Linked DNA regions of Homo sapiens: all the other regions are linked to region 2. The links come from fine-mapping of genetic effects on gene expression. A gene starts in region 2. Each other region holds a variant in brackets. All regions are shown on one strand. Distances are between the middles of the regions. Region 1 overlaps GAS7 (growth arrest specific 7). Region 2 holds the start of GAS7 (growth arrest specific 7). Region 3 overlaps GAS7 (growth arrest specific 7).

The links. PIP is the estimated chance that this variant, and not a neighbour inherited with it, causes the effect.
Region 1: its variant is fine-mapped to the expression of GAS7 in whole blood (INTERVAL, PIP 0.99).
Region 3: its variant is fine-mapped to the expression of GAS7 in lung (TOPMed, PIP 0.96).

What each region holds. Positions count from the first base shown.
Region 1 is chr17:10,107,810-10,118,296 of GRCh38, forward strand. All of the region lies in intron 1 of GAS7 (growth arrest specific 7), which reads right to left. Among named protein-coding and RNA genes, the nearest start is that of GAS7, 86 kb to the right of the region's middle. RefSeq lists a silencer at 7,445-7,504 and enhancers at 9,459-9,988, 9,989-10,487. The variant C/A (reference allele first, on the strand shown) is at 5,582.
Region 2 is chr17:10,193,710-10,204,196 of GRCh38, forward strand. GAS7 (growth arrest specific 7) reads right to left here and starts at 4,897. Exons shown (of 14, transcript NM_201433.2): 1 at 4,499-4,897. The coding sequence starts at 4,681.
Region 3 is chr17:10,010,842-10,021,328 of GRCh38, forward strand. It overlaps GAS7 (growth arrest specific 7), which reads right to left. Exons shown (of 14, transcript NM_201433.2): 2 at 8,936-9,056. Among named protein-coding and RNA genes, the nearest start is that of RCVRN, 110 kb to the left of the region's middle. The variant G/C (reference allele first, on the strand shown) is at 6,505.

The DNA of each region.
Region 1 (10,487 bases), 86 kb before region 2:
CCGCCTTACACACAGTCCAGTAGGGGACTGGGTAGGAGAACCACCTTACACACAGTCCAGTAGGGGACTGGGCAGGGGAACTGCCTTACACAGTCCAGTGGTGGTGGGCTGGTTAGGGAAACCGCCTTACACACAGTCCAGTGGGAGCTGGGCAGGAGAACCACCTTACACACAGTCCCAGTGGGGGACTGGGCAAGAGAATCACTTTACCACAGTCCAGTGGAGGGCTTGGCAGGGGAACCACCTTACCATAGTCCAGAGGGGGTCTGGGCAAGAGAATCACTGTACCACAGTCCAGTGGCGGGCTGGGCTGGAGAACCACATGGCCCAGCGTGGCCAGCTAGGCAGGAGAACTGCAAGCACTTGCCTGAAGCATGCAGTTTATAGAGCATTTTTGCTTTGCATCCTCTCCCTAACAACCTCCACCTGGCAACCTTCATTTAACCCAAAAGAAAGGGCCTTGGTCCTCCATATGGCCTGTGTTCCACTGGACGGGCCAAGGGCTCAGATGTTTCTCATAGGTAAGGAATGAATCTCTGAGTTGGCCACTGCCTGATTCTTTAGCATGGAAATCCACACACACATTCTGGTGCATCTACCACACAGGGTCGTTCTCAGGGTATGCTTAACTTATTGCTGTCAAGTGTGTCTACCATGCACTGTGATTTTCTATTTAATGCATGCCCCAGTGAGCATTTTCTTTGAGCATCATATAGTCCTGAAAAAGTTTCAGATTTTGGAGGATCTGTCTTTGTATTTAGCTCAGATATTTAAAAATTGCACTGCAGAGTAACCAGATAGCATGACGTTCATATAAAAACAGGCACGTAGACCAATGGAACAGAATAGAGAATCCAGAAATAAATCCATGTATTTACAGCCAACTGAGTTTCAACAAAAGCACCAAGAATACACATTGAGGAAAGGACAGTCTCTTCAATCAGGGGTGTTGAGGAAACTGGATATCCATACGTAGAGGAATAAAACTGGACCCCTATCTCTCACCATATACAAAAATCAACTCAAGATGGATTAAAGACTTAAACTAAGGCTCGAAACTATAAAACTACTAGAAAGAACACTTCAGGACATTGGTCTAGGCAAAGATTTTACAGTTAAGACCTCAAAAGCACAGACAACAAAACCAAAAATAGACAAATGGGCCCATATTAAACTAAAAAGGTTTTACAAAGCAAAGGAAACAGTCAACAAAGTGGAAAGACAATCTATTGAATGGGAGAGAATATTTGAAAACTATTTATCTGATGAGGGACTAATAGCCAGAATATACAAGGAACTCAACAGCAAAAAAAATTTAAAAAAATAAAAATAAATAAAAATAAAATAACCATTAAAAAGTAGGCAAAGGGCATGAATAGACATTCTCAACAGAAGACATACAAATTGCTAACAGGCATATAAAAAAATACCCAACATCACTAATCACCAGGGAAATTCAAATTAAAACCACAACGAGCTATCATCTTACGCCAGAGTTAGAACGGGTATGCCTGGCTTATTTAACTTAAGGTAACATAATAACCTCCAGTTCCATTCATGTTGCTGCTAATGACAGCCGTTAGAACAGCTATCATTAAAAAGATAAAAAATATCATTAAAAAGATAAAAAATAACAGATACTGCCAAGGATGAGGAAAGATGGGATCTCTTGTACACTACTGGTGGGAATGCAAATTGGTACAGCCACTGGGGAAACCAGTACAGAGACTTCTCAGAAAACTAAAAATAGAACAACCATACCATCCAGCAATCCCACTGCTGGGTATTTATCCAAACAAAAAGAAATCAGGATATCAAAAGACATCAGGCCAGGAGCAGTGGCTCACGCCTGTAATTCCAACACTTTGGGAGGCCAAGGCAGGTGGATCACCTGAGATCAGGAGTTCAAGACCAGCCTGGCCAACATAGCAAAACTCCGTCTCTACTTAAAAATACAAAAACAGGGCCAGGCGCGGTGGTACACGCCTGTAATCCCAGCACTTTGGGAGGCAGAGGCGGGTGGATCATGAGGTCAGGAGTTTGAGACCAGCCTGGCCAACGTGGTAAAACCCCCTCTGTACTAAAAATACAAAAATCAGCTGGGCGTGGTGGTGGGCGCCTGTAATCCCAGCTATTCGGGAGGATGAGGCAGGAGAATCACTTGAACCCGGGAGGTGGAGGTTGCAGTGAGCCGAGATTGTGCCATTGCACTTCAGCCTGGGCGACACAGCAAGGCTCCGTCTCAAAAAAAAAAAAAAAAAAAAGATATCAAAGAGATACCTGTACTCACACGTTTACTGCAGCATGATTCACAATAGCAAAATTATGGAATCAACCTAAGTGTCCATCAATGGACAAGTGGATAAAAAAATGCGGTATATATACACCGTGGAATTCTATTCAGCATGAAAAAGAAAGAAATCATGTCATTAGCAGCAACATGAACGGAACTGGAGGTTATTATGTTAAGTTAAATAAGCCAGGCATAGAAAGACAAAGATCAGTGTTCTCACTGATATGTAGGAGCTAAAAAAGTTGCTCTCGTGGAGATGAGAGTAGATAGTTAACTAGAGGCTAGGAAGGGTGTGTGGGAAAGAGGGGGGATGAAGAGAGTTTGGTTAAGGGGTACAAACATACAGTTAGACAGAAGATATAAGTTCTTTTCTTTTTTTTTAAGACGGAGTCTCGCTGTGACACCCAGGCTGAAGTGCAATGGCGCAATCTTGGCTCACGGCAACCTCCGTCTCCCGGGTTCAACCAATTCTCCTGTCTAAGCCTCAGCCTCCCAAGTAGTTGGGACTACAGGTGCATGTCACCACGTCTGGCTGATTTTTGTATTTTTAGTAGAGACGGTGTTTCACCATATTGGTCAGGCTGGTCTCGAACTCCTGACCTCAAGTGATCTGCCCGCCTCAGCCTCCCAAAGTGCTGGGATTACAGGCATGAGCCACTGCGCCCAGCCAGAAGATACAAGTTCTAAAGTTGGATAGCAGAGCAGAGGGATTATAGTTAGCAACAATATATCACACATTTTGAAACAGCTAGAAGAATGTTTGTTCCCAACACACAGCAATGACTGACGCTAAGGTTATGGATACCCCAAATACCCTGACTTATCAATTATTATACATTCTATACATGCAACCAAATATCACATCTACCCCATAAATATGTAAAACATTACGCGTCGATTAAAAAGTAAAATAACACAAGATGCTCTATTTAGACAGGGCTAGTTTGCTTTGGTGTCCACAACTTGTAGGTCAGTAACTGCTGTGTACATCTATGGATATCAAAAGTCCTTAAGGGGGCCGGGTGTCTTGGCTGGCACCTGTAATCCTAGCAGTTTGGGAGGCTGAGATGGGAGGATCCTTTGAGGTCAGGAGTTCGAGACCAGCCTGGTCAACATGGTGAAACCCCGTCTCTACTAAAAATACAGAAATGGCCAGGCGCAATGGCTCACGCCTGTAATCCCACAACTTTGGGAGGCCGAGGTGGGCGGATGATGGGTAAGGAGATTGAGACAATGTTGGATAACACAGTGAAACCCCGTCTCTATTAAAAATACAAAATAATAGCCAGGCGTGGTGTCGTGCACCTGTAGTCTCAGCTACTTGGGAGGCTGAGGCAGGAGAATGGCATGAACCCGGGAGGCGGACGTTGCAGTGAGCCAAGACTGTGCCACTGCACTCCAGCCTGGGTGACAGAGTGAGACTCTGTCTCAAAAAAACAAACAAACAAACAAACAAAAAACCAGAAATATACTTGGGAGGCTGAGGCAGGAGAATCGCTTGAACCCAGGAGGCAGAGGGTACAGTGAGCCGAGATCACGCCACTGCACTCCAGCCTGGAGACAGGGCAAGACTCCGTCTCTAAATAAATAAATAAGTCTTTAAGGGAGGCCTATATTCCAAGGGAATTGCGACCCTCCTTGGTGGGTCTGGCAGCCTAACCCCAATTGTGTTTCCAATAGGCGAAATTCGGGAGTTCCAAAATTGGACCAGGTCATGGGGCCTGGATACCCTGATGAAGAACTGCTGCCGTGTTTCGACTTGAGGAAACCTAGACCAGATACACTCTGCTTCTTAGACTCTTATTTTCATGCTAAAAGCATACAGTTTAGACCTGTGCTCTCCCATATGGTAGTCAGTGGACACATACAGCCCCTCAATATAAATTAATCCAAATGAAAGAACCACTTCCGCAGTTGCACCAGCCACATGTTAGTGGCTACCGTACTGGGCGTCACAAAAGTAGAACATTGCCATCCTCAGAGAGTTCTACTGGGCTGTGCTGCCTGAGGGCATCTCTCCAGGCATTCTTTGCTACAGCTTCACCTCCAGCTCCCTGACTTAGAAAAGCCTGGGAGCAGAGAAATGCTGTCACTGCATCCAATTCCACCGTGGATGCATCCTCGAGCACGTGACCGAAGACACACAGCGAGGGATGCTTTCCAGGGGTGTTTGCCCACGTGTGGGGCTTTTCACTGAAAAGACTCTATCTTTGGAAAGGGAGAGGCAGAAGACACAGAACACTGGAAAACAAGAGGAAGACTCAGGCAGGAGCAAGGTAGGGCAGATGGAGATGAGAGAGAGGAGGGAAGTAGGAAAAGATAATAGGAGTAGCATGTAGAAAATGGAGTCTAGCCGGGCGCGGTGTCTCACGCCTGTAATCCCAGCACTTTCAGAGGCTGAGGTGGGTGGATCACCTGAGGTGAGGAGTTCGAGACCAGCCTGACCAACATGGAGAAACCCCAACTCTACTAAAAATACAAAATTAGCCGGGCATGGTGGCACATGCCTGTAATCCCAGCTACTCAGGAGGCTGAATTCAGCAGGAGAATTGCTTGAACCTGGGAGGCAGAGGTTGTGGTGAGCTGAGATCATACCAGTGCACTCCAGCCTGGGCCATGAGAGTGAAACTGCATCTCAAAAACAAACAAAGAAAAGAAAAAAGAAAGAAAGAAAGAGAGAAAGAGAAAGAAAGAAAAGAAAAGAGAGAGAAAAGGAAGAAAGAGGGAAGGAAGGAAAGAAAGAAAAGAAAAGAAAAAAAGAAAAAGAAAAGAGAAAAGAGAGTCCAGTAGTGTCATCACAAGTAGAAAATTCAAGTGTTGCAAAGGATTCTTTCCCTTAAGATCTATATGTAAAACAACCGACTGGCCTGCAGAGAGGCTAGACCAAGTCCACCCAACGATCTGCAAGACAGAGGGTCCTCTGAGGGTCCACTCCCTATGGCCCAGGGAAGCAGAGAGGGACCCCATCCACTCACTGCCTGCATGGGAGGCTGCAATAGAGTGGGGGAGCCATGGGAGAGAAATTCAACAGAAAGTAAAGACAAACTTTTCCAAGCAGAAATTAAAAAAAAATCTGAAAGTGCACGATGCTGGCAAGGCTATGGGAAAGCAGGCACTCCTACTCGCTGCTAGCAGAAGTGTAAGCTAGAACAGTCTTGTTAGAGGCAATCTGGCCCTTTCTGTCAAAACTACAAACACATATATTCTTTGTTCCAACCTTTCAACCTCAGAAACTTGCCCTTCAGAGACCCTCACCCACGTGCAGAATGATGGATATACGAGGCTATC[C/A]ACAGCAGCAACAGGTAAAGGTAACAGAGAAAGATTAGAAGCAACCTTTATGCCCATTGGTGAAATGAGTGGGGCAGGCATTAAACAGGAGGAGGAAGCTCTTCCTATTGACTAAACTCCAAGATATGTTATATGATTTAACAAAAAGCATCAGTAGCACCAGCAAGGTGCAGAAGTATAGAGGGGATACCTGTGTTCAGAAAACCACAGAGATCGCATTTTTCCGCCCCCTACAACTTGTGCCTCTCACTTCCCGACACACGGTTTCCTGGGTTAAGGAAAATAAAATGAAACATATTTGGAAATTCCTGGACTACTTCTGGAAGTACCCACAAGAAACTGATCACTTGTTTGCCACTCGGGAAGGGAACTGATAGGTTGAGGACAGGGATGGGAAGGAGACCAACTTTTCACTCTACGTTTTTTGTACCTTTCAGATATCAGACCTGAGCATATATTACCTATTTGATAAGTATAAAATTAACAGATATACTTTTGGGTATACATACTGACCAAACATACTTCTGTCTCTTTTGTTTCTCAAGATAGGGTCTTGCTATCTTGCCCAGGCTGGAGTGCAGTGGTGTGATCACAGCTCACTGCAGCCTCAACCTCCCGGGCTCAAGTGATCTTCCTGCCTCAGCCTCCCGAGTAGCTGGGGCTACAGGCATGCACCACCACGCCTGGCTAATCTTTTTTTTTCTTTCATTATTTTTTGTAGAGATGGGGGTCTCCCTATGTTGCGCAGGCTGATCTCAAACTCCTGGGCTCAAGAAATCCTCCTGCCTCAGCCTCTTAAAGTGCTGAGATTACAGGCATGAGCCACCATGCACTTTTCCGTCAATGCTACAGTCTCACTGGGAAGGAAGCCAGTGCCTGCCAGGTGAGTGGGCCCAGGTTACCAGAGCACACAGCCCTGTGCTCCCAAGATGCAACAGGCCCCTCGTTGTGCCCTGCCCTGCAATCTGGTTCTTCAGAAGAGGAGTTCCCAAATACCTGGTCCTCTGCAAATCTGAGCTGTAAACAAGCCTTGGAAAGGTCCTCCCCTTACCTAAATCCCAGCTTCAGGGTCCCGTTTCTGACTGGGGTGCCACCACCAAAGGCAGGGTATACACAGCCACCGAGTGATCCTCTGCCTGCTTCTCACTCCAGGGAAGAAAATCAAAGCAGGTCCCATGGCTGCCGTCTGATAATCACTATGGACACCACACACCAGCCAGCATCAGGGCTGTGTCCAATTAGCCACCCCCATAACAACACCATAGCAACAAAGGTAATATTATTGTTCTAAAGAGAAGAGAAAAACCACACACACACACACACACACACACACACACACACACTGTGTTGTGTGACAGCTTTGAAAGCCACAGAGATCGCATTTTTCCACACCCTAGAACTTGTGCCTCTCACTTCCCGACACACAGTTTCCTCAATGAGAAGTCACAGGCTTGGGGCAATCTCCTCTTCACGCCATTCCAAGATGCGTGTCCTTCACAGGAAACTGGCATGAGAATGATTCTCTGGCAAGCCAGGAGTCAGGGCTGCCTCCTCGCTCTGCCTCTGTGGCTGGCAGGGCTGGGCCAGCTGCAGACCAACAGGCTGGGGGTCATGCTCCAAGCTGTCCTCTGTCTGTCTGTCTGTCTGGCTGGCTGGCTGGCTGCCTCTCTGTGCCAGACCCAAGCTGGCACTGGGGTTTTGGTGGTTGCATCAATGAGCCACACGCTAATCTCCAGACCTAAATGTGGAAAGCATTAACCCAAATGAAAAGACATAAATTAGGACGGGGGCTTATGGGATGGAGGAAAACAGCTCTTCTCTGAGCGAGAGCCTGGGCTGTTGCACAAGAGCTGAGTGAGTCACCAGCCAGCAGAGGGAAGGACCAGGGACGGAAGGAGGGAGGGGAGCCCCCCGTGGGACTGGCGGGTGCACAGGCGGGGGGAACGCTGCAAAAACACAGCTGTAGGTTCATAACTAAGCACACTTCATCAGCAGTCTGAAGGAGGGTGGGGGGCAAAGTGTCACCTCCTCCCCAACTCAGGAAGTGTTGCAACACGTGTCCTCCCCAGAGAAGACAGCAGAAAGAAGTGTTCCTAACTGTTCACCCTTTACAGGCTGCAGCTGTGCCCCGGGGAAGCACACCTCAGCACAGAGAAGGCCTCTCTCATCCCTCCTTGCCCCTTCTTGGCAGTGTCCATACACTTGGGGGTCCCCTAGCATGAGGTGTCCATTGTGGGCACACAACTCTTGCCCATACTTATTACCATTTCTTGTCTTTTCTTCCTTTCCTTTTTCCAAACTCCCCATCCTCCATACTACTGTTGTTAACAACAAGACAAATCCTTTGGTCTCCCCCGCCCCTAGTCCCTGGGGAGAACCTTATACCTTCCCTTAAAACCGTGCCCCACTCACCAACCTCCCCAGCCATGACAGATTCCAAAGCTCCAATATCCAGGCAAATTCTTAGTACCTTCTACGAGTGAGGCACGCTGTCCCTGGGGGTGGCAGTGGAGAGAAGGAGCTCTCCCAAACAGATCATCCAACCAGGACTTCTGAGACTTAGAAGCCCTAGAAATTTGCTCAGCACCTTGGTGGGACCCCTCACCTCTCCAGATCATCATCAAAATGAGGTTGGGTTGGCCGGCCATGGTGGCTCACGACTGTAATCCCAGCACTTTGGGAAGACAAGGGAAGTGAATCATTTGAAGTCAGGAGTTCAAGACCAGCCTGGCCAACATGGCCAAACCCCATCTCTACTAAAAGTACAAAAATTAGCCGAGTGTGGTGGCGTGTGCCTGTGGTCCCAGCTACTCAGGAGGCTGAGGCAGGAGAAGAATTGCTTGAACCCAGGAGGCGGAGGTTGCAGTGAGCTGAGATTGTACCACTGCACTCCAGCCTAGGGGACAGAGTGAGACTCTTGCCTCAAAAAAAAAAAAATGTTGGGTTTAGAGATCAGCTGGGTCCCTTAGACTCTGACAGTGCTCATCTGTAAGAAATGCATGGAACAAAATGAATACTCTCCAGAGTACCTGGCTGCTGCAGGGCTTACCCCGGGGAATGCAAGCTGAAGAAGAGTGCCCTGGGCTGAGCGGGTCTCTGCAACTGGCCGGGCTGCTCACAGCCACTGGGTGCTCAGGAAAGGTGACCAGCAGATAGCACCAGCCGCATCCTGCCAGGGAAGTCACTTACAGGAGAGCTCTTGCGGGTAGGGAGTGGGTCTGAAGTGGACTTAGAGGGCAGCTGGCAGAGACAATGGGAAGAGAAGGTATTCCAGACCAAGGAATCATTCATTCATATTCATTCATTTATTTATTCGACACAGGTTTCTTGAACACCTCTTATACACCAGACGCAGGTTTCGACACTGGGATACATCAGTTAACAAGACAAAGATCCATGCCTCAGGGAGCTTACATTCTAGCAGGGGAGATACACAACCCACAACAAGCCAGACAGACAGGTCAATGATCCAGTTTTGCTGGAAGGTGATAAATGATGAGGGGGGGAAAAGAAAAAACAGAGCAAAGGGGTGGACCTGCCAGAGTGAGTGAGAGACTGAAAGGAGATAAAGAGGTCTATTCATATCCTGAGGCTGCTGTAACAAATTCCCATACACTAACGGGCTTCAAACAATGAAAATTTATTATCTTACAGTTCTGGAGGTCAAAAGTCTGAAACAGGTTTCACAGGGCTAAAGTCAAGATGTCTGCAGGGCTGGCTGGTTCCTCCTGGAGGCTCTAGGAGAGAATCCATTTCTTTGCCTTTCTCAGCTTCTGGAGCCCACCCACTTTCCCTGGCTTTCGGCCCCTTCCTCTCGTCACTCAGCCTCTTGCTTCCAACATCACATCTCCTAACACTGATTCTGGCCCTCCTGCCTCCCTCTCATAAGGACCCTTGGCTTACACTGGGCCCACGTGGATAATCCAGGATTATCTCCCCATCTCCGGTTCTCAACTTAATCACAACTGCAAAATCCCATCTGCCACAGAAGGTAACATATTCACAGGCTCCAGAGATTAGAAGGTAGACATCTTCAGGGGACCATTACTCAGCCCCCACAGGGAGTTGGGCTGCAAAGGCCCTGATGAGGAAGCATGCCTGGAACATTTAAAGAAACACCACGGAAGGCGGAGGACAGAGGCAGGAGTGACACAGGAGTGAGACCAACGGGGAGGAGCAGGTGCTGAGGTCAGGACAGCAATGGGGACCCAATTATGTAGCACCTCATCAGCCACTGTAGGGCTTCCGCGTCTTCACTCTGCCGACATGGGGCACCACTGGACTGTGGTAAGCAGAAGCACGATGTGTTCAGACCCTTCCTGTGAAAACAACAGACTAGGGACCAGCAGAGCAGCCAGGAGGCGCCTGCAACAGCCCGGCAGCATTGTGGTGGCAGCTGTGGCTCAGTCCAAGGCTACAGTGGTAGGGTGGTGAGAAGTGATCCTGTGTTTAAAGATCTGTTTTGCAAGAAGGGCCAACCTGCATTCTCAACATGCTGAATGTGGAATGTGAGAAAAAAAGGGGAGTCAAGGTTTTTGCCTCCAGCGGCTGGAAGGACAAACTAGCCATTTACTGAGCTGTGAGAAGCCACTGTAGCCCAGACCTGGGCTAGGCAACTGCGTCCTGGACAGGACAAGTGGAGATGTCAAGGACACAGCTGGACCTACTTGGGTCTGCACTTTTCCCCGAGGGTAACAGGCAGCACCAGGACCCTGTTGCTCTCCAGGGCGTGGAGACAGCCAAGACCATCCCGGATTACATTTCTAAGTCAGTCACTCGTTGCAAGACAAGATGATAGAGATGGAGTAAACAGGGATATCGCCTGAGCCCTCGGTTTCTCAGCCAGGTATTTTTCCGCTTCTCACAGCGCATAAGGTGGGAAGGAAGTCATGGGAGCACAGCTGGA
Region 2 (10,487 bases):
CATCAAAGCACCAGACAGGTGAGTGAAGATGACATTTTGGAGGCTGCAGTCTAGTTGAGCCTCCAAGACTCTGCCCCAGCCACCATCTGATTGCAACTGCATGAGAGACACTGAGACAGACCAGCAGAAGAACCACCCAGCTGAGCCCCGTCAATCCACAAAACCATGCCAGATAATAAGAAATTGTTGCTTTGAAACACTAAATCTTGGAGTGGCTTGTTACATGGCAATAGATAAAACATCATTCCTTAATTATCCATAGCACAGCCCACTCTCTCCCACAGACACTCCTTATCAACTCCTGCAGCACAACTGCATGAACCCAAAATGGGAGAACAAAGGGTAGAGTGAAGAAAATCAAGTTTAACGGTGACCCTCAGCAGCCATTCTAGTTGTGCCAGCAAACAGTGTCATATTCTGTTAGTAACCCAGAAAGAAAGGAAAAGGCTCTTTTTAGGAAAGAGAAAAGGTCCAGATTATCCAGCCAGATCCTGGATTCTAAGAATACCACCTAGTTCAAAGAAAGCTCTATTTTGTTTGCATTCCAATCCCATTGTCCCCCAGAATTATTTCCCAAAAGCTCTGGGAAGTTTTGTAGATGCCTTACAACATTCCCCAGGTCCCTAATTTCTTCTCTCCATTCAAGGAAAGTACAGGCCACAGGAATTCCTGGACCCTATTAAACCCTCCAACCACTGACCTGTCCAGCCACTGGGCTTGTCCTGGTACCATGTCTTTCTCTCCAAATTTTCCCCAGGATGGAGATCTAGGATTCTCTATCCACCTTCCCCAGGAGCTATTTCTCAGCCTTGATGTACCCTAGAAAGCTGGTGGAAATATTCCCACATGTGGGGTTCCCAGGTCTATGGAGGCAATCTCAGGCCTAGCTTGGAGCTGGCAGAACATGCTCCCACAGCTCCTATCTCTGGTCTCAGGTCTCTTCCTCTACCATATCTCTCAAATGATGTTAAAAAGACTTCTCGGCCGGGCACAGTGGCTCACGCCTGTAATCCCAGCACTTTGGGAGGCCGAGGCGGGTGGATCACAAGGTGAGGAGATCGAGACCATGCTGGCTAACACGGCGAAACCTCACCTCTACTCAAAATACAACTGCACTCCAGCCTGAGCAACAGTGCGAGACTCTGTCTCAAAAAAAAAAAAAAAAAAAAAAAAAGACTTCTTAATTCCTGTCCCTCGTCATAGCAGAAGAAACCCTCAGGAAAGATTTTTCTAGTTGATTTTATCTAATAACCAGCTGTGGGCCTTGGCTGTAAGGCCTATTCCTTTTCTGGAGGTAGGTGTTTCCCTCTGCCCATCCTTTGAAGAGCTGCACCACCCCGAGTAGGAAGAACCCTTGTGGCCAGAGTCCTTGGGCCTACCAGAGACCTCTACACTTCCCTGCCTGTGCTGAGGTTTTCCTGGAAGCTGCTCTCTGGAAGCCAAGTATGTGCTATACCATTTCCTTGGAGTCTTGACCAAAGAGATTGCCCCAAAAACCAAGACCTCCTCCAAGCTGGCCTCCTCCCAAGGGCTAGCTGGCCACTGGGTCAGATCTGGTGACTCTCTTGGAGTTAGCTCCCAACTCCCCTCCCCCGTGTATGCTTCCTGCAAAGGCTGGGTCTCTCGGTTCCCCTTGCTTCATCTGAACAAGGAAGATCTCCTTGGGAAGTATCCAGTGTGCACACAGTATTCAGTGCCTCCCTCCCCTCCACCAAGATGGGGTTTCCTAGTATCACTCTTTCTATCAGGGTGAAAGTTCCGCTGGAGTAGGGAGCACATTAGAGATGCCATATTCATCTGTGTACCCACAATCCCATCCCTAGGCCAGGAGGCTAGTACAGTCCATCTGTCTGTACTTGTTTCTCCAACAGCTGCCCTGGCCTTCTGAACTCCATGCTCCCAAGCAAGCTGAGTGACAGCACCACATTGGCTGACATCTCATGAGGTTCGCCATCTCCAGTATCTATGGGCCCCCTCTCTAGTCTCATGAGTCCAGATGCTGGCCAGTCTACCCACCAGCCTGGGGACCTCTGCATTCTCTGAGTCTGCCCTTCAGGACTCACCCCATCCCAAGCAACTCTGCTTGCATGTCCTCTATCTCTACCTAGCCTTCAGCCTTGAGGTCCAACTTGCTCATGTAGGAGGTTCCCAGATGCCAAGCACCTGACCCACATGCCCCCCTGTTGAAACTGCATCTGCTTTGGCCCTGAGAAGAGTCCCACCCAGTACTTAGGATACAGGACTCGGGCCCACTGTGGGAAGACCCCCAGCTGGTTCTGAGTAAAGTCACACTTTGGGGTTAGCAGGGAAGATCCTCCAAGTTGCTCCTGGATGCAGCTGTCCTCGTTTTAGCCCTAGAGGTTCAGCCTCCCCTTCGCGGTGCTGTCACCAACATGCTGACCTCAGGGGCTGCGCATGCCCCTTTTCCCCATGGATCCAGACCCTTCGCTCACACGCTGTTTGGCATAGTTGAGCCCGGGCTATCATGTTTAAAAAAGGCACAGGCGCAGGGGGTGATACTCAGTCATCTGAGCTGCTAACAAAACACGCAAGCATTACTAGTTGGGGAGCTGACTTCGCCTCTCTCATATTCAGCTTGCTTGTCTATAAAATGGGGGAAGTACCTCACCCTTCACAGAGCTGTCAGGGAACTGGTGATAACGTGCACACACTGTGCCAAGCAGGTGCTCAGAAGTATTGCTCACGCAGATGGATGCTTCTGTTGCAAGTTACTAGTCAGGAATGGTCTGAGAGGCCCTGAGACACCAGAGATCTCTTACCTTTGTATATGCCAGAGGATGGGACAGACACACCCAAAACTGTCCCAGTTGTTAATTCCGCTTGTCCCCTGGCCCTGGTCCATCGTCCCTTTCCCGGAAGAAAAAGCAGCACTCCACTCTTGCTAACTAACACCTACCCAGCCTCACCCCTACACAAAACACAGCTGGCTCAGTCCAGCCAGGGATGCTCCTCACCGGACAGACATCCATCAGCCAAATTTCCACATCAGAATTTCCTGGAAAAGGGTGACCACCCGAAGAACTCCCAAAATACGTATCTATCCCAGGGCTTCAAGCTAGAAACAAGGAGGCCCCTTGCTTCTCATGTAAGAAGCAATACGTTCGCTTTCTTTTACATCCGAATCTCGGGAAAGGAACTGGAAAAGCCAGGGCAGGGCACACCTGAGCCTCTCCTACAAGTAGGGTATCTCCGGATTCTCCAGATACAGAACCAAGAGGGTTCCTGCAACATACTCTGCTGACAGCCCATGAAAGCTCATTCCAGCAGCCCCTAAACTTTGCTCAAATGCTACTGATGCCTTTAGGAGAGATTTTGTTGTTCTCTGGACCTGAAAGCAATCTAATGTACTTTTATAAGGCCAGGCTCTTGCTGACAATGTTGCCACAGGATACATCCTCAGGCGGACTCACCCTGTAACCATTTCACTTCTTTCTTTCTTCCCCCCGCCCCCGATGAATTGCACTGAGCATTCTCAGTCAAAATTTGCTACTTTCTCTGTGAAGTAGGTCAAGAGTTAAATAATAAATAAATTCAGCCTCCATGATTTCTTCCGGCAGTGTTTTACCAGAATGTTTAGGAATACTGACACCATTGAAGGTAACTGTTAATTTAGTCTTTACAAGAATCCTGGGGGCAGGCGGGCTTCTAGTAAAGGGGATGTCCTGGAAGGTCACCCCCCCACACACAAAGGACTTTAGAAACTTCGGGTCTCACTCAGGCTGTGACTGCGAGCTCAGTGATTAGAGGACAGCCTGTCACATAGACAATAAACAGCCAGCCGCCTTGCCTCAGCAGGTCCTGTGCAGCCCTGGGGCCAGGCCAGAACCCCAGGAACAAGCCACTTTCGGGTTCTGAGCCTTAGCCTCGGGGAGCTGGACCAGGGGAGCAGGCAGTGGCGGGGGGTGCTACGGCACCCCAGGATCAAGCCTGCTGAGGGGGCTCGGGCTGGTGGCCAGCAGGCTCGGCTGACCAGCAAGTGGGTGGTCCCGAGGCGGCCAGGCAGCCTGACCCAAGGCAGCACGACCGTCCACGGGTCATCAGGCTCTAGACTCCGGGGTGGAGACGCGGGGCTGCGGGACCGAGTCGGTGCCACTTTCTCGCACCCCTGATCCTCCGTGCCTCTTCCCAAGACCGCCAGACCCTTCACCGGCCCCTGCCACTGCCGGGAACGCTCCCGCCTGCTCCTTAACTCACACAGGCAACAAGTTCTCGCTTCCTCAGAGCAGCCACGGTGTGCTCCGGAGGCCCGGCGCAAGGTGGAAGCTCCCCGCGAGTCCGCGTTGCCCACGCCCCGAGGGGCGCCCGCTGCCGTCGCTGCCCCCCAGGAGCGTGGAGCTACAGGTAGCGCCGGCAAGGGCTGCCCCCCGGGGCGCCCCTCCGACCGGGACGCTGCGGCATCCCCGGAACGGGCAACAGGTACGCGAGCGCACCGAGGACCGCAGCCCCGGCTCCTACAGCCCCGGCCCTCGCCCCTTACCTCCAGCAACTGCACGTAGCTCGCCGGGAACCAGCCACGGAGCCCGTCCTCCTTCTCGCCTTCCCACCAGCCGCCGTCCGGGACCTGCAGCAGCGTGATCAGCTCGCCCGCGGCGAAGCGCAGCCCCTGGCCGTGCCGCTCCCCGGAGAAGGGGTACAGGGTCCGGCAGCGAGCGCCGGACATGGCCTTGGCGCCCGGGTTCACAGCGCAGCCTGCATTCCCGCCGAGCCCCACGGGCTGGGCAGCGGCTCCGCGGGGTCCCAGGCGCCCGGCGCTCCGGGCTCCCGCGCTCTGGGCGCGCGCCGTCTCTGGGGTGCGCGGGGGTCCTCAGGCAGGCGGGGGACGCGCGCTCCGCGCCGGGAAGCAGAGACTCGTTGGCTTCGCAGAGCGAGCGGCGACGCCCCCGGGCCGGGCAGCTCGCGGATCCTAGCTCTGGGCTGGGGGGCGGGGCTCAGGGGGAGGAGACCCAGGCGCCGCGGGCTCCGGAGACAACTTCCCGGGAACGCGGAACGCGGGCTGCCGCCGCGAGGGCTGGCCGGGGCCGGGGCCGGGACCGGGGCCGGGGCCGCCCTGGCGCGCGGAAATGCGCAGCTCCCCCGGGAGGTGGGACCCGGAGCATCCCCCGCGGCAGGACTCCGCGGCGGGCGGCCGTGGAGAGGAGCTGGCGGCCGGGTGGCCGGGCGGGGGTTAGCTCACTGGCGAGGGGGCGGGCCGGGGCGGGGCCAGGGCGGCCACGCCCGCGGAGGGCTGCGCGCTCCCTCGCAGAGGGGCCTGTCACTGGGGAGAGGGGCTCCCACTCGCGCCCCCACCGCCGGGGACCGCGGGAATGGAAACGCCCCTCTGTTCTGTGCCTGCTTTGTAGGCCTGGCGGCCCGTGGCGTGCGGGCGGCTTCTTCGAGGTGTCTGCGAGGGATCGTTTGTGGTTGTCATTGTAGTGGTTGAACCTGGGGTTGAACTTGTCTCACCGGAAACTGAACAATGGGTGAAAGACAGGTTTGAAGCCTGGCGCCTGAGCCCAGCAGCCTGGTGGCAGCGTGGCACGCTGGAGGGACGGAATGGAGAGAAGACGGGGTCGGAGTTGATAGAATTGGAAACAGTCGATGGGGATAAATGGAGGAAAGGCGAACGGTGAGAGGAACAGCACCAATGCTTTTACTTGCAGAGGGAAGGCCGGCCCAGGGTACCAGCCCTCCCGAAATCGAGATGGGTTGGCTAAAGAGTCTACACTCATGTAGTCAGTCAACAAACATTACCAGGAGGCTGCCATGTTCCATGCGATGTGCCAGGTACTACAAACATCATTTGGGCCAGTCCCTGCTCTCCAGGGACCAGTGAACCTGAGTGCTGCAGAATGTTGACCTTGAACTGACCGTACAGAAGTAAAAGAAAGCTTGGTTTCTTTGCTAGTCTACTCCATAAAAAATTTTAAAGAAATAAAATAAAGTACATTTTTTAGCCTGTAAATAGCTGGACTCGGCCAGGCGCGGTGGCTCACGCCTGTAATCCCAGCACTTTGGGAGGCTGAGGCGAATGGCTCACTTGAGGTCAGGAGTTCAAGACCAGCCTGGCCAACAAGGTGAAACCCCATCTCCACTAAAAATACAAAAATTAGCCGGGCGTGGTGGCGGGTGCCTGTAATCCCAGCTACTCAGGAGGCTGAGGCAGGAGAATGGCTTGAACCCGGGAGGTGGAAGTTGCAGTGGGCGGAGATCATACCACTGCATTCCAGCCTGGGTAACAAGGGTGAAACTCCGTCTCAAAAAAAAAAAAAGCTGGACCCTTTAATACGCCTGTATACCTCTGTCTACTCCTTCCCCCCTCCCCCAGTCACCTTCTGTGGCTCCCTATTGCCTTTTAAATTTGGTACAAACTTCTCTGCCTGTACATTTCAGGCCCTCCACAACGCCTCCTCTAGCTTCACCTCTTACTATGACTGCCTAGATATCCATTACAAAACCAGTCAGGCCGGGCTCCAAGAGCCTGAAGATCTTGCGCACCTGTCTATGCTTTGAATCAGACCCTGGCACAGAGCCTTTCACCTAGTTCAATGGTTCTCAATCCTGGCTGCACATTACAGTCATTATGCAACTTTTTAAAAATACTCATGCCCAGGTTTTAAGAGTCACTACTGAGCCCTAGTCTGCAGCTAAGCCATCTCACCTGAGCAGCCTCCATCTGTTCTCTGGCCATGGGCAAAGTGACACAAGCAGATTATTTGTAATAGTCCATCAATTGCAAAGTCTTGAACATTCGCTTGGCCGGAAATATAAAGAAACAAACTCTTGACCACAGTCACCACTAAGAGTCCCTTAAAGCGGAGCTGCATAACTTCATATCAAAAACAGTCATTAAAAATAGCTGGCCCAATGAAGTTTTAAAAGAGATACAATTCCTTGTATCAGGAAAATATGTGACTTCCAGCAGGCTGTTCTGAGGCTTCATTCCTGATGATGTGGCCTGAATCAAGGTAGGACAACTGATTTCCAGCCATCCTGCAACCCTAATTCTCTGCATGCCCGTGAGGAACTGTGATCCAGTTTGGACTTGAGAAATCGCAGCCTACACAGCATGCCATACACTTGAGTTCTACCTGACCCACCTCAAACATTCCTGCAGCAACCAAAAATGATAATAGCTGTTAATTTCTCCACTTAATTCATTTCATTCCTGTAATCCTACGAGCTGATGAGGTGACTGTTGTCCCAGTTTTCAGGTAAAGAAACTGGGCTCAAAGAGTGTGACTTGCTCACCATCATACAGCTGGTCAACAGCAGAATCAGCTTTGAACTCAATTCTAGCTTATTGTACACTGGTGTTGCTTTCTGTCGTCCCCCCTGCCAGTCAGAAAGCAGGTATCCTAGTGACTCACCCACAAATAGCATCTTAAGAGAAAGTTCTCTAGGCTGGGCACAGCCTGTGAGAGCTTATGCCTGTAATCCCCACACTTTGGGAGGCCAAGGCGGGCGGATCACGAGGCCAGCAGATTGAGACCAGTCTGGCCAACATGGTGAAACCCCATCTTTACTAAAAATACAAAAATTAGCTAGGTGTGGTGCCGCGTGCCTGTAATCCCAGCTACTCAGGAGGCTGAGGCAGGAGAATCGCTTGAACCTGGAAGGTGGAGGTTGCAGTGAGCCGAGATCACGCCACTGTACTCCAGCCTGGCGACAGAGCAAGACTCCATCTCAGAAAAAAGAAAAGAAAAGAAAAGAAAAGACTCTCTGGTGATACCCAATGTCAGTCTTCATAGAAATAAGACTGGACTAGCAGTTAGTGGAACTCCTGTTGCTGATCTCTTATCAATCAGGTAACCTCCAAATCCTCAAGTCTTCCCATACCTTTGGGTCTATTTCCCCGTCTGTAATTGGAGATCGAATCCAGTAACTGGAATATGGGAATTTAAATGGTTAAATGTAGTTAGTGGTTAAATATGTTGGCTCTGGACTGCCTTTATTCAAACCCCATTTCTGCCACTTTCTAGCTGTGTGGCATTGGGTGATTTACTTACGTCTCTGAGCGTCATTTTCCTCATCACTACAAGAAGACAACAGTAGTATTAATATCATAGAGTTATTAAGAAGATTAAGTGAGGAAGCATGTAAACTGTTTAGAGCAGTGCCTGGCACATTAAATGCCCCTATGTTAGCGATTGTTTTTATCTATCCAGTTCAAGGGTCCTGGTGATTTATTACGTAACACTTCTTTTTTAACTAAGATTTCTAGAGCAACAATAGAAGGAGGAACTCTTACATCTTTGGGATGCCACAAATTTTGTAGAAACACACTTTGGCTTTCTGTTTTCTCCCAGGATCTTGAAGGAAAGATAAATTCCTCCCTTATCAATTTTCCCTCCTGCCTTCTCCCTCTCTGATTTATATTACTATCTTGAAATTGTATTTAAATCTTTAATTATTTTTGCTTTTTTTTTTTTTAAATTGAGACAAGATCTGGCTGTATTGCCCAGACTGGAGTGCAATGGTGTGATCTTGGCTCACTGCATCCTCTGCCTCGCGTCTCAAGCCATCCTCCCACCTCAGCCTCCAGAGAAGCTAGCTGGGACTACAGGTGCACACCACCATGCCTGGCTAATTTATTTTTGCTTTTTTTTTTTTTTTTTTTTTGAGATGGAGTCTCGCTCTGTAGCCAGGCTGGACTGCAGTGGCACTATCTCGGCTCACTGCAAGCTCCGCCTCCTGGGTTCATGCCATTCTCCCGCCTCAGCCTCCCAAGTAGCTGGGACTACAGGCGCCTGCCACCACGCCCGGCTAATTTTTTGTATTTTTAGTAGAGACGGGGTCTCACCGTGTTAGCCAGGCAGGTGTCAATCTCCTGACCTCGTGATCTGCCCGCCTCGGCCTCCCAAAGTGCTGAGATTACAGGCGTGAGCCACCACACCTAGCCTACTTTTGCTTTTTAAAAAAATAATAATTATTATTAAGTCTTATTTTACTGGTTAGACTGTTAGTAACTCAGGAGAGGGATAGCATCTTTGTTTTAAATTTCCATCTATCTTTTTTTTTTTTAGACTGAGTTTTACTCTTGTCACCCAGGCTGCAGTGCAATGGCATGATTTTGGCTCACTGCAACCTCCACCTCCGAAGTTCAAGTGATTCTCCTGCCTCAGCCTCCTGAGTGGCTGGGATTACAGGCATGCGCCTCCACGCCCGGCTAATGTTGTATTTTTAGTAGAGATGGGGTTTCGCCCTGTTGGCCAGGCTGGTCTCGAACTCCTAACCTCAGGTGATCCACCCACCTCTGCCTACCAAAGTGCTGGGATTACAGGCATGAGCCACCATGCCTAGCCTATCTATCCTTCTTAAAGCCTAACGTTGACTCATACAAAAAGCAGGCATTCAGTACTTCTTGATCTTTTGCATAGATTGTTTGGACCCTGTTCATATTTAGATTTTCTACTTGCTAAGTTGTTGTATAAACCTGTGTCAGAGCTTTCTCTAGACACTGTGCATTTGTTAGTTATGTGGTGGCTGGTATTTCATTTCTACCCAAGACAACCTTATACACCTTTCTATCAGCCTATGGATGGCAGAGAAATGGAAAGGTTTCCATTTCTTTACAACGTTAAACATAGCCAGGCGTGGTCGCTCATACCTGTAATCCCAATGCTTTGAGAGGCTGAGGCTGTGGGTTCCCTTGAGGCCAAGAGTTTAGGACCAGCCCAGACAACATAGTAAGACCCCTGTCTCTACAAAAAATAAAATAAAATAGAAAATAAATAAAATAATTTAGCCACAGGACGTGGTGACATATCCCTGTGGTCCCAGCTACTCAGGAGGCTGAGGTGGGAGGATCACTTGAGCCTAGGAGATCGAGGCTGCAGTGAGCCATGACCACACAACTGCACTCCAGCCTGGGCAGCAGTGCAAGCCCCTGTCTAAAAAAAAGAAAAAGGAAGAAAAAGCAAGTTAAATATAAATTTACCTAATGACCCAGCAATTTATTCCGAGGCATCTACCTAAGAGAAATGAAAACATATGTCCACACAAAACTTGTAGTGAATGTTCATAGCAGTATTATTCACAGAAGTCAAACAGTGGAAATAATCTAAATGTCCATCAGCTGGTGAATAGATAGACAAGATGTAGTATGCCAATACAATGGAATATTTACTCAGCCATGAGAAGGAGATATTGATTCACGCTACAACATGGATGAACCTCAAAGACATTGTGCTAAGTGAAAGAAGCCAGACACAAAAGGCAATGTATTATATGATTCCATTTATATGCAACGTCCAGAAAAGGCAAATCCATAGACACAATTTAAAAATTAGTGGTCACCTGGAGTTGGAGCTGCAAACAAGGAAGAAAGAAACAAACACAAGGTTTCTCTGAGGCGATGTAAATGTTCTAAAATTAGTTTGTGGTAATGATCACACAACACAGTAAGTCACGAAACTGTACACATAAAACAAGTAAAATTCGGGGCATATAAATTATACCTCAAAAAATTGTTAGTGTTGAGCAAAAAT
Region 3 (10,487 bases), 180 kb before region 2:
TAAGTCCAACCATTTTAAGTTGGAGACAGCTTGTACTCAGCTCTACAATCTCCGTGCAAAACCAGCCATAGACAATATGTAAACAAAAGGGCATGGCTGTGTTCCAATAAAGAAAGCTTCATTTACAAAAACAGCTGTGAGTTGAATTTGGCCCATAGGCCACAGTTTGCCAACCCCTGAGTTAGAGGATTTAGAAGTTTCCTCCTAGGATGATTATGAAGCAAAATCACTAGCCTCTGCAACCCACTTTTATGAAAGATCAAGTTATCAAGGTCTGAGGGTGGAAACAGATGTTCACCACAGCACTCAGTTCTAGGAGAGTCTCTGCCTAGGGACACAGGCACTGGACTCTTCATAGTTCCATCAACAGCCACCTTCTGTTTTGCTTGGTACCTCACTCATGCTCTGCTGACCACTGCCTTGGGCTTGGATGAAGCATCACTCTGCATGGTGGAATCTGGCTTTCTGAGAGCTTGGTAGGAGTCAGATGGTACAAACCAAATGTGTAGGGAAATAGCTGTGCAAGGGGAGGGGCTTGGCCAGTGTGAAATAGGAGACAAGACAGAGGTGAGTAGATAAAACATCTCTGCTTTCCTGCAGACTACTCCAGGCTACGGCTCCTCCTTGCAGCCCTTCCAGAAGTGAACATATCCACTAAGTGACCGGCTGGGACTCTGCATTTCACTGTCAAACACCAGCCAGCATCACTTGGCATTGTTCTTTGGCTTTCCTTCCCTTGCATACCTACCCTCACCACTTTGTACTGATACCTCCTAAATAAGGTGTTAACACTCAATCCTTGCATCAGGCTCTGCTTTATAGTGGGGGAGAAAGGGTTAAGATACCATCTCAAGGCCGGGTGCGGTGGCTCATGCCTGTAATCCCAGCACTTTGGGAGGCCGAGGCGGGTGGATCACCTGAGGTCGGAAGTTCGAGACCAGCCTGACCAACATGGAGAAACCCCGTCTCTACTAAAAATACAAAATTAGCCAGGCGTGGTGGCACATGCCTGTGGTCCCAGCTACTAGGGAGGCTGAGGCAGGAGAATCGCTTGAACCTGGGAGGTGGAGGTTGTGTGGGCCGAGATTGCACCATTGCACTCCAGCTTGGGCAACAAGAGTGAAACTCCATCTCAAAAAAAAAAAAAACAAAAGATACCATCTCAAATGGTACTCTTTGTTTAAAAAAAAAGAATGGCACAGATAAAACTACTGGATTTAGAGTATAAAAAGATTAATAAATAAGAAGTAAAATCTTGACTAATACATTAAACTAAACTAATCTTGGCCATCTATCTATACTGGCTTCAAATATCCCTAATGTCCAAATGGTAAAATGTATCCTAAACATATCTAAAAGGTCAGCATCTCTCCAAAAAGAGGGCCTGAATACCTATGACTATATTAAGTGAAGAAGCATGCATGCCTGGCCTTCCAGTTATATTTTTATTTTATTTATTTATTTGAGACAGTGGCTTGCTCTGTCACCCAGGCTGGAGAGCAATGGTGTGATTTCGGTTCATTGCAACCTCTGCCTCCTGGGCTCAAGTGATCCTTCCACCTCAGCCTCCCAAGTAGCTGGGACTACAGGTGTGCGCCACCACACCCGGCTAATTTTTGTATTTTTAATAGAGACGGGGTTTCACCATGGTCCCCAGGCTGGTCTTGAGCTCCTGGGCTCAAGTGATCTGCCCACCTCGGCTTCCCAAAGTGCTGGATTACAGGTGAGAGCCACCACACCCAGCCGACCTTTCAATCATAAATGGAGCAAAAAATGTTGTGCTATATCTCTTGAAATATAATTATTTGTTGTATAAATAAGAGGTCCCTGTCGTGGTCTGAATGTTTGTGTCCCCTCCAAATTCACGTGTTGAAACCTAATTCCCCATGTGCCAGTATGAAGCGGCGGCACTTTTAGGAGGTGACTAAGTCATGCAGGCTCCACCATCATGGGGTTAGTGCCATTAAAAGAGAAACCCAGGCAGGGCGCGGTGGCTCACGCCTGTAATCCCAGCACCTTGGGAGGCCGAGGCAGGTGAATCACGAGATCAGGAGATCGAGACCATCCTGGCTAACACTGTGAAACCCCGTCTCTACTAAAAAATACAAAAAATTAGCCGGGCGTGGTGGCGGGCACTTATAGTTCCAGCTACTCGGGAGGCCGAGGCAGGAGAATCGCTTGAATCCAGGAGATGGAGGTTGCAGTGAGCCGAGATCGTGCCACTGCACTCCAGCCTGGGTGACAGACCGAGACTCTGTCTCAAAAAAAAAAAAAAAAAAATTAAAAAAAGAGAAACCCAGAGGATCTTGTTTGTCCTTTCCACCACGTCAGAATGCAGCTGTTCTTATGAACCAGAAAGCAGGCCCACACCCGACACCAAATCTGCCAGCACCTTGATCCTGGACTTCCCATCCTCCTGAACTGTGATAAATAAATTTCCATTGTTTATAAGTCATCCAGTCTATGGCTTTTTGTTAGTGCAGCCTGCACAGACTAAGACAGTCTCCTTAACACTAGCTGAGGTCCCTGGATGGGGTAGGCTATTGATAATAGCTCACTATCCCAAACCGTTAGCAACACAGGCAACTTTTGGTGGGAATGGAGAGCTTCCCTGGACAGCACAAGACAAGCAATTTCCTGATACCAAAACCCTGGGAGTTCCTGGGGCTGAACTGAAGGCCACTCTGCATGATGAAATTTCCAGAGAGCCACAAGAAAGATGGGGACTTCCCAAAGTCCACGGAGCATGCTCTGATGGCATTGGCAAGTTTATATGAAAGCAACGGCATTACTGCATTAACCACTGAAACTTCCTGTTAGCCATCTGGCCCAACGCCGTTTACTAAATAATCCATGCTTTCCCCAGTGATTTAAAACAACACTCTTATCATAAACCTGATCTATATTTCAGTCTGTCCCTGACTACCCCTCCCTATCTATTCTCCCTTGCCTTTGATGACATTACCTTCTCCTGGATTCCTTGTATCTCTGACAATTCCTTCAAGGTCTCCTTGGCTGCTGCCTTACACCTGTGCTGCAAGGCCCCGGGTGATCTTCTACATCCTCATCACTTCACCTCTCTGCTGATGAAACACAAATCCTGGGCCACCCTCTGTGGCTGGGCAGGTTGGTCACTGCGCAACAGTGGCCAGGCCATGTACCCACATGGCTCACCAAGTTCCCATCTCTAGCTCAGAAGTCCTCTAAGTCACACCGTAGCCATCCAAATGCCAGCCATCTCTCCCAGAACGCACCCCAGGGAACCACACACTCAGCATGGACTCATTTTTCTTTCTTCCTAACCTGTTCCTCCCTTGAATACCCTATACTCACTGTATGGTCCCATCACACAAGGCAGAAAACCCGGAGGAATCCAGGCACTTCCAATCCCTGACCTGCCACAGCCACATCCTGTCTGACAGATTCTACCTCCTCCTCTCCAGCCACTGCTGTAGAATTGGTGTTTGACCTCATTATTTCTCCTCTCATTTAGTCTGTCGGCCTCCACGCTTACCGGCCTTAAAGCCTTCGCTCTGCCGCACAAGCAGCCTTGCCACAATATTCTGATCATGTCACGCCACCGCCTGGAAATTTCCCATGGATTCCCGCTGCCTACAGGATAAAGACCTGACTCCTCAAAATGCCCCAAGGCCCCTGACTCTCTCTCTCACCTCTTTCTTCCTTAACCAATGCCAAACACATCCGCTGTTTTTCTCTCCTGCCTGGTCTTTACTCATGCTGTAACCTTGGCTTGGAATGCCTGAGTCAAGGCCGCCCCCTCCCCCTGCAAAGACTTGGTTAATACCCAGATCAAGCTGACTACTCCCTTCCTCGAGCCCCCAGATTTCCACACGAATACCTGTAACACTTATAGGTTTATATGTGTCTCTGGCCCTATTAGAACTGCAGGTTCTGAGATCACAGACAGCATCTAGTTTGATTTTGGATCCCCAGAGCCCGGCTCAGTGGCTAGCACAGTGACAACCTCATCCATAAAATCCTAAATGGATGTGAAAATAAGCAGATTAGCCAGCCAGGTGCGGTGACTCACGCCTGTAATCCCAGCACTTTGGGAGGCTGAGGAGGGGTGGATCATGAGGTCAGGAAATCAAGACCATGCTGGCCAACATGGTGAAACCCTGTCTCTACTAAAAATACAAAAAAATAGCTGGGTGTGGTGGCGCATGTCTGTAATCCCAGCTACTCAGGAGGCTGAGGCAAGAGAATCGCTTGAACCGGGGAGGCGGAGGTTTCAGTGAGCCGAGATCGCACCACTGCACTCCAGTCTGGCGACAGAGCGAGACTCTGTCTCAAAAAAAAAAGAAAAGAAAAGAAAAGAAGCAGATTAGCCAAGGCAAGGTAATACAAATGTAAATTAGACTTTCAACTGGTTATAGGTGTAAAAATGGGGACAGAACACCTATTATCCCCAGGCACCCTCTGGAAAAGAAGAGATTAGGGATTAAGGGAGAAAGACTAGAAGCGTCTGGAAGAAAGGTAGACAGACAAAGAGGAAGAGAAGAATGGCCTGCTTAGAACCGGGACTGCACTTTCTGGGCACTGGGCTAGCATGTGGATGAAATGCCACCTGGAGAGCGACAGAGCAAAGATGCTTAAGCAAGGGGCCAGGCAGAAAGGCAGATAGATGCAGCTGGCCCAGCAGTGAGGAGGCACAAGCTCAGGTGCCTCCAGGAGTCAGGAGGTAAGAAAAACATGAGTGGCTATTCTCATAGATGCCTTCCTGCAGAAAGGCAGGCAGATTAAAATATATTTAAAACATCCCTACAGCCAAACAAAACAAGTCTAAGAAACGATTCCAGAGGAGAATCAGAAAGATAGCTGCTTTCCTTCTCCCTTAGACTGCCGAGCAAAATTATTAATATGATGTTCATGGGCTGCATGATCCCTACAAACACAGCTGACTCTTTGCCATCAGTAAGACACTCCCCATCCCCTAGCCCTTCCTTACCCTTCCCATCCTGCAGCTTCCTTCTCCAGGAAGCCTCCCCTGATTCCCCAGGGTCTCTCTGTGACATGCTCTTAAAACACCCTGGACTCCTGCTTCACAACCCTTTCCTGATTGATCAAATAGGTTTTCACTTAAAATCTGTTCCCACTATAAGAAGATAAACACTTGCAGGGCAGAGACTTTGTTCTTATTAAATCCCCAGTATCCCAAGACTCACTCTGCCTGGTACATATTTGAGGCTCAAACTATGTGTTGAAGGAATGATTCAATCAAACAGATAAACAATAAGTTAAGGTCGGGCACGGTGGCTCACGCCTGTAATGCCAGTACTTTGGGAGGCCGAGGCAGGCGGATCACAAGGCCAGGAGATCGAGACCACCCTGGCTAACACGGTGAAACCCCATCTCTACTAAAAATACAAAAAATTAGCCAGGTGTGGTGGCAGGCACCTGTAGTCCCAGATACTTGGGAGGCTGAGGCAGGAGAATGGCATGAACCCGGGAGGCGGAGCTTGCAGTGAGCCGAGATCGCGCCACTGCAGTCCAGCCTGGGTGAAAGAGCGAGACTCCGTCTCAAAAAAAAAAAAAAAAAAAGAGTTAAACAAGTAATGAATAAAACTGGCATATATCTAGAATGTAAGACCAAGGTAGGTGCTGGAATTATTTTTAGCATAAAAGAGGAGAGAGCCGAGCACGGTGGCTCATGCCTATAATCTCAGCACTTTGGGAAGCAGAAGTAGAAGCCAGAAGTTCGGGATCAGCCTAGGCAACATACTGAAACCCTGTCTCTACCAAAAAAAAAAAAAAAAAAAAAACAAAACAAAAAAAACTGTTTTTAGGCATAGTGTAATCCCAACACTGTGGAAGGTCAAGGCCAGTAGATTACTTGAGGCCAAGAATTCAAGACCAGCCTGGGTAACATGGCAAAACATCTCTACAAAAAATAATAATAATAATAATAATAATAATAATAATAATAATAATAATACAAAAAGCCAGGTGTGGTGGCACATGCCTGTAATCCCAGCTACTCAGGAGGCTGAGGTGGGAGGGTCACTTAAGCCCAGGAAGTTAACGCTGCAGTGAGCCATGATCGTGCCACTGCACTCTAGCCTGGGCAACAGAGTGAGACCCTGTCTCAAATAAATAAAAAATATAAAAAAATAAAGAAATCAGCCGGGCGTGATGACACATGCCTGCAATCCCAGCTACTCAGGGGGCTGAGATGGGAGGAGTGTTTGAGCCCAGGAGGTTGAGGCTGCAGTGAGCCATGATTGTGCCACTGTACTCTAGCCTGGGCAACAGAGTGAGACCCTGTCTAAAAAAATAAATAAATAAATAAATAAATAAATAAATAAATAAATAAATAAAGAGAGGAAGGGCAAATAGGACAAGTCCTTGTGGAGCCAACAGACAGCCTGAAGCAGGGACCAGCAGCTATGGTCCAAGGGACCAACTGGTCAAACCAACTATCATATGGCCCAGTGAACTTGCCAACGAAAATCATCTTCCACTTTTTTTTTTTTTTTTCCTTGA[G/C]ACAGACGGAGTCTTGCTCTGTCACCAGGCTGGAGTGCAATGGCGTGATCTCGGCTCACTGCAACTTCCACCTCACGCGTTCAAGCGATTCTCCTGCCTCAGCCTCCCGGGTAGCTGGGACTACAGGCGCCCGCCACCACACCCGGATAATTTTGATATTTTTAGTAGAGACGGGGTTTCACCATGTTGGTCAGGCTTGTCTGGAACTCCTGACCTCAAGTGATCCACCTGCCTCGGCCTCCCAAAGTGCTGGGATTACAGGCATGAGCCACCATGCCTGGCCAGAACGATGATATTTTATAACACACACAAGTCATCTGAAATTCCTATTTTCGGATCCATAGATAAAGTCTTATTGGAACACAGCTACACTCATTTGTTTACCTATCATCCAGGGCTGCTTTCATGCTGAAACAGTAAAGCTGAGTGGCTGGGATGGAGACCATGTGACCCTCAAAGCCTACATACTGACTACTTGGCCCTTTACAGAAAAAGTTCACTGACCCCTGGCCTGGAGCCTCTGTGGGATCACAATATCTCAGGACCCATAAGAAAGCTGTCACCAGTGGCATCTGCTAAAGTCTGAGTCCCAGAAAAAAGCTGCCAGACACTGTCTATTGATATAAAATATGACTTAAATTAATAGAGTGCAGGTGAAATTAATAGCATACCCATGCGATGGATTACTACACAGCTGTTTAAAAGAATGGGTTAGACTGAAATGTACAAAGTATAGAAAGATGTCCACATACACTGTCAAAGTAACTTAAAGGACAACATAGACAATATTTTCCAATTTATTTTAAAAGAATAAGTATACATATGTTTAAAAGGTGAGACCGGGGATTATTTTTTATTTGAAATCATTTTGTACTTACTGAATTTTTTACCGTGAAAACAAACTAGTCTCTAACTTAAAAAAAGATAAAGATGCTGAAATTCAGAAAGCCATTTCCCCCCATGCCCCTTTGCAATAGAGTAGCTTATTTGGGACAATAACGGATCCAAATTATTCATATCCCCTAGCAACCTGACCTTCCAATAATTTGGATCCAATGTTGTCCCAAATAATTGATGATCTCATGATCCTACGGTCCAAATTCTGTGTTTGGCAGATGGGTGTTGCATACATAGACACACTCTCCTCTGAAATTTCAAGTCTCCGGTAACAGTGCAAAGCTGTTCATGTGTTTGTTTTGAGGAAGTGTAAGATTAGAACGGTCAGAAATAGTCCTACTTCCCTTTTCCTAGAAACTTCATTACCTCTTGCGCTAGAACACCCCTCTTGAGCCTGTGGAAGGTCAGGTTGCCAGGGGATACGAATAAACCAGCTGCCTTCTTTGTGTCTCTGCTAAACAGTAGCTGGCTCCCCTGTCACTAGGACCCCCTCCTGGTGCAGGCTTATAAACATCAGCTGTAGTAACGATACCCCCAGGTGGGAAGGGGTGGTCATGTAGTCAGGCAGGCACAGAGGAGTGAGAGGCCAAGGCTGAGCCAGCAGTGGACTTGGGTACGATTTTCATCTTTTGCCTTGGAACGCATGTCTGTGATTCCCACTAAATCTAACTTTCCTTGGTTTAAATCCTCTCAGTTCTCTCATGGCAATTTCTCTGGGGAGTCACGGAGGTCAAGACACAGCTCTGTTCAGCTGGTTTACCCTGTCCTGCCCTGCCCAAGACCACAGCCTGCAACAGTGCCCTTTGCTCACCTTGTTACAGAACCTGCCACGTGGTGCATCCCCTTTTATAAACCATCCACAGCAAACTTCTGGGGATCCTGGGGTCATTTGAAGGCCTGGGAGGTCCCTAATTATTGGGGTCATTGAGGTGTGGTCCTATTCAACTCAGATGCACATGGAACCTGTACTATTTGATGGGATAAATAACCCATAAGCACCCCCGGCATTTCCCAAAAAACATCTGGAGAAATGCCAGCCAGTGAGATACTTAAGGAAAAAGATGACGTTGTAGTGAAATTAGGGAAACCTCGCATTTGCAACCCCTGTATTGAAGCTTCAAGATCATTAAAACCTTCAAAATTCCAAGACATCATGCAGTGACTTTGCCTCGTTCATTTTATTCAAGCCAGCTGTTGACCATAGAACCTTTTGAGACACCCTTCAGAAAACCCAGCCCCAGACGAACAGGTTGGGTTTAACACAGATACCCAGGGTGGACGTCAGGGTCCAAGGAAGACTCAAACCATAAAGGGCAGCCTTCCTTCCAAGATACTCCCAGAACTACAGACCCAGACTTGCACCCCTACCACCCAGCACAGTGGGAGGAGTAAGACTTTACTGTAGCCCCTGAGCATAGACTTAAGAAGAAAAAACCCCCAAACAGAGAGGCGAAGAAGGGAGAAAAAACGTGCCCCTCTAGAGAGCCAGAATGCCAGGGGGTTGGTGCAGGATTCTCCCCCGAGCGGGACTCACCATTGGTGGTCGTGTTGACATAGTACCGCCGGCCCTGAGGCGACAGGTAGCTCTGCCAGCCAGGTGGAAGGATGACCGTCTGGCTTTCTTCTCCCGGCGGAGGGGGGACCATTCCAGGCTTCTGTTGGAGAAGAAAGAAAAGGTCACACCCATTTGGCATTTTTGCAAGAGTTTTTAAACCAGGAAGGCAAAGGCTGATGAATTCACCCTACAGTAGCGTGACATTGGGAAGTCTGCGGCCCATAAACCCCTGAGGTCAGAGGCAGCACACACGTGACCTCCGGGGTTGCGTGAGCATGAGCAGTGAGAAGCACCTGAGCATTCAGAGCCCCTGCACAGAGGACAGCTCCTCTGGGAGCAGAGAGGAAAATGCCATTCAGCTAATGGAGCTAGACTTTCTCCACGGCCCCCTAGAAAATCACTCACGGGGTGCTGAGCTTGCAAGGGGGCCCTGTCACTCCACCACCTCCCATTGTGAAATCTGAAGCCTGAAATTCCCAGACCACGAAGCACAGCAGCAGACAAGGCCCCAGGCTTGCTGTGCAAACCTAGCAGAAGTAATTAATGCAAGTCATCCCACAGCCAGATGCAAAACATTCTATAATAATGCTGAGAATCCATGAAGAGCTGGATGGAGCTTCTCTCGCCAAGGGTCCAGATCACTCTGGCAAAAAGAACGAGGACTCGGAGACAGAGCAGACGCTGACTTCCCATTGTATGCATTTATGTGCAATTAATTCTTTTAACCATGTATAGAATTACTTTTCGTTAAAAAACAAATCAGAGAAAAATGTATATGACATACAAAGAAACTAGATATCTAGTAGACAGATGCTAAAAAAAAAACAACCATGGCCGGGCGCAGTGGCTCACGTCTGTAATCCCAGCACTTTGGGAGGCCGAGGCGGGCGGATTGCCTAAGCTCAGGAGTTCGCGACCAGCCTGGGCAACACGGTGAAACCCCACCTCTACTAAAAATACAAAAAATTAGCTAGGCGTGGTGGTGTGCGCCTGTAGTCCTAGCTACTCGGGAGGCTGAGGCAAGAGAATTGCTTGAACCTAGGAGGCGGAGGTTGCAGTGAGCAGAGATCGCACCACTGCACTCCAGCCTGGGTGACAGAGTGAGAGTCCATCTCAAAACAAACAAACAAAAATATAAAAACAAACAAACAAAAAACAGCCACGATCCCTGGGTGCTGGGATTACAGGCAATTATTATACTCTCCTTTCTACATATCTGTTCCCCCTAAATTTTCTCCCATAAACACAGAAATAAAAGTTGTTAGCTAAAGAACATTTTAAAATTAGGACAGAGAGTCCAAATTAGCCCGTAAGATTGCTGTGCCTTTTGAAGTAAATTGATTAAAATCAGAATTGTAGCCATACGAAGAGAGTAGCCATGAATTTCTCAGCAAAGCCAGGGGACTGTTCACAAACAGTAAAGGTAATCGGCTCCCAAATGTCCTCAGTATCCCCCAGCTGTGCCCATAGTGGTGGTCCCTGGTGACCCCCGCTTAGGAAAACAAGATAACAGAATGAAAGAGAGCAGCAG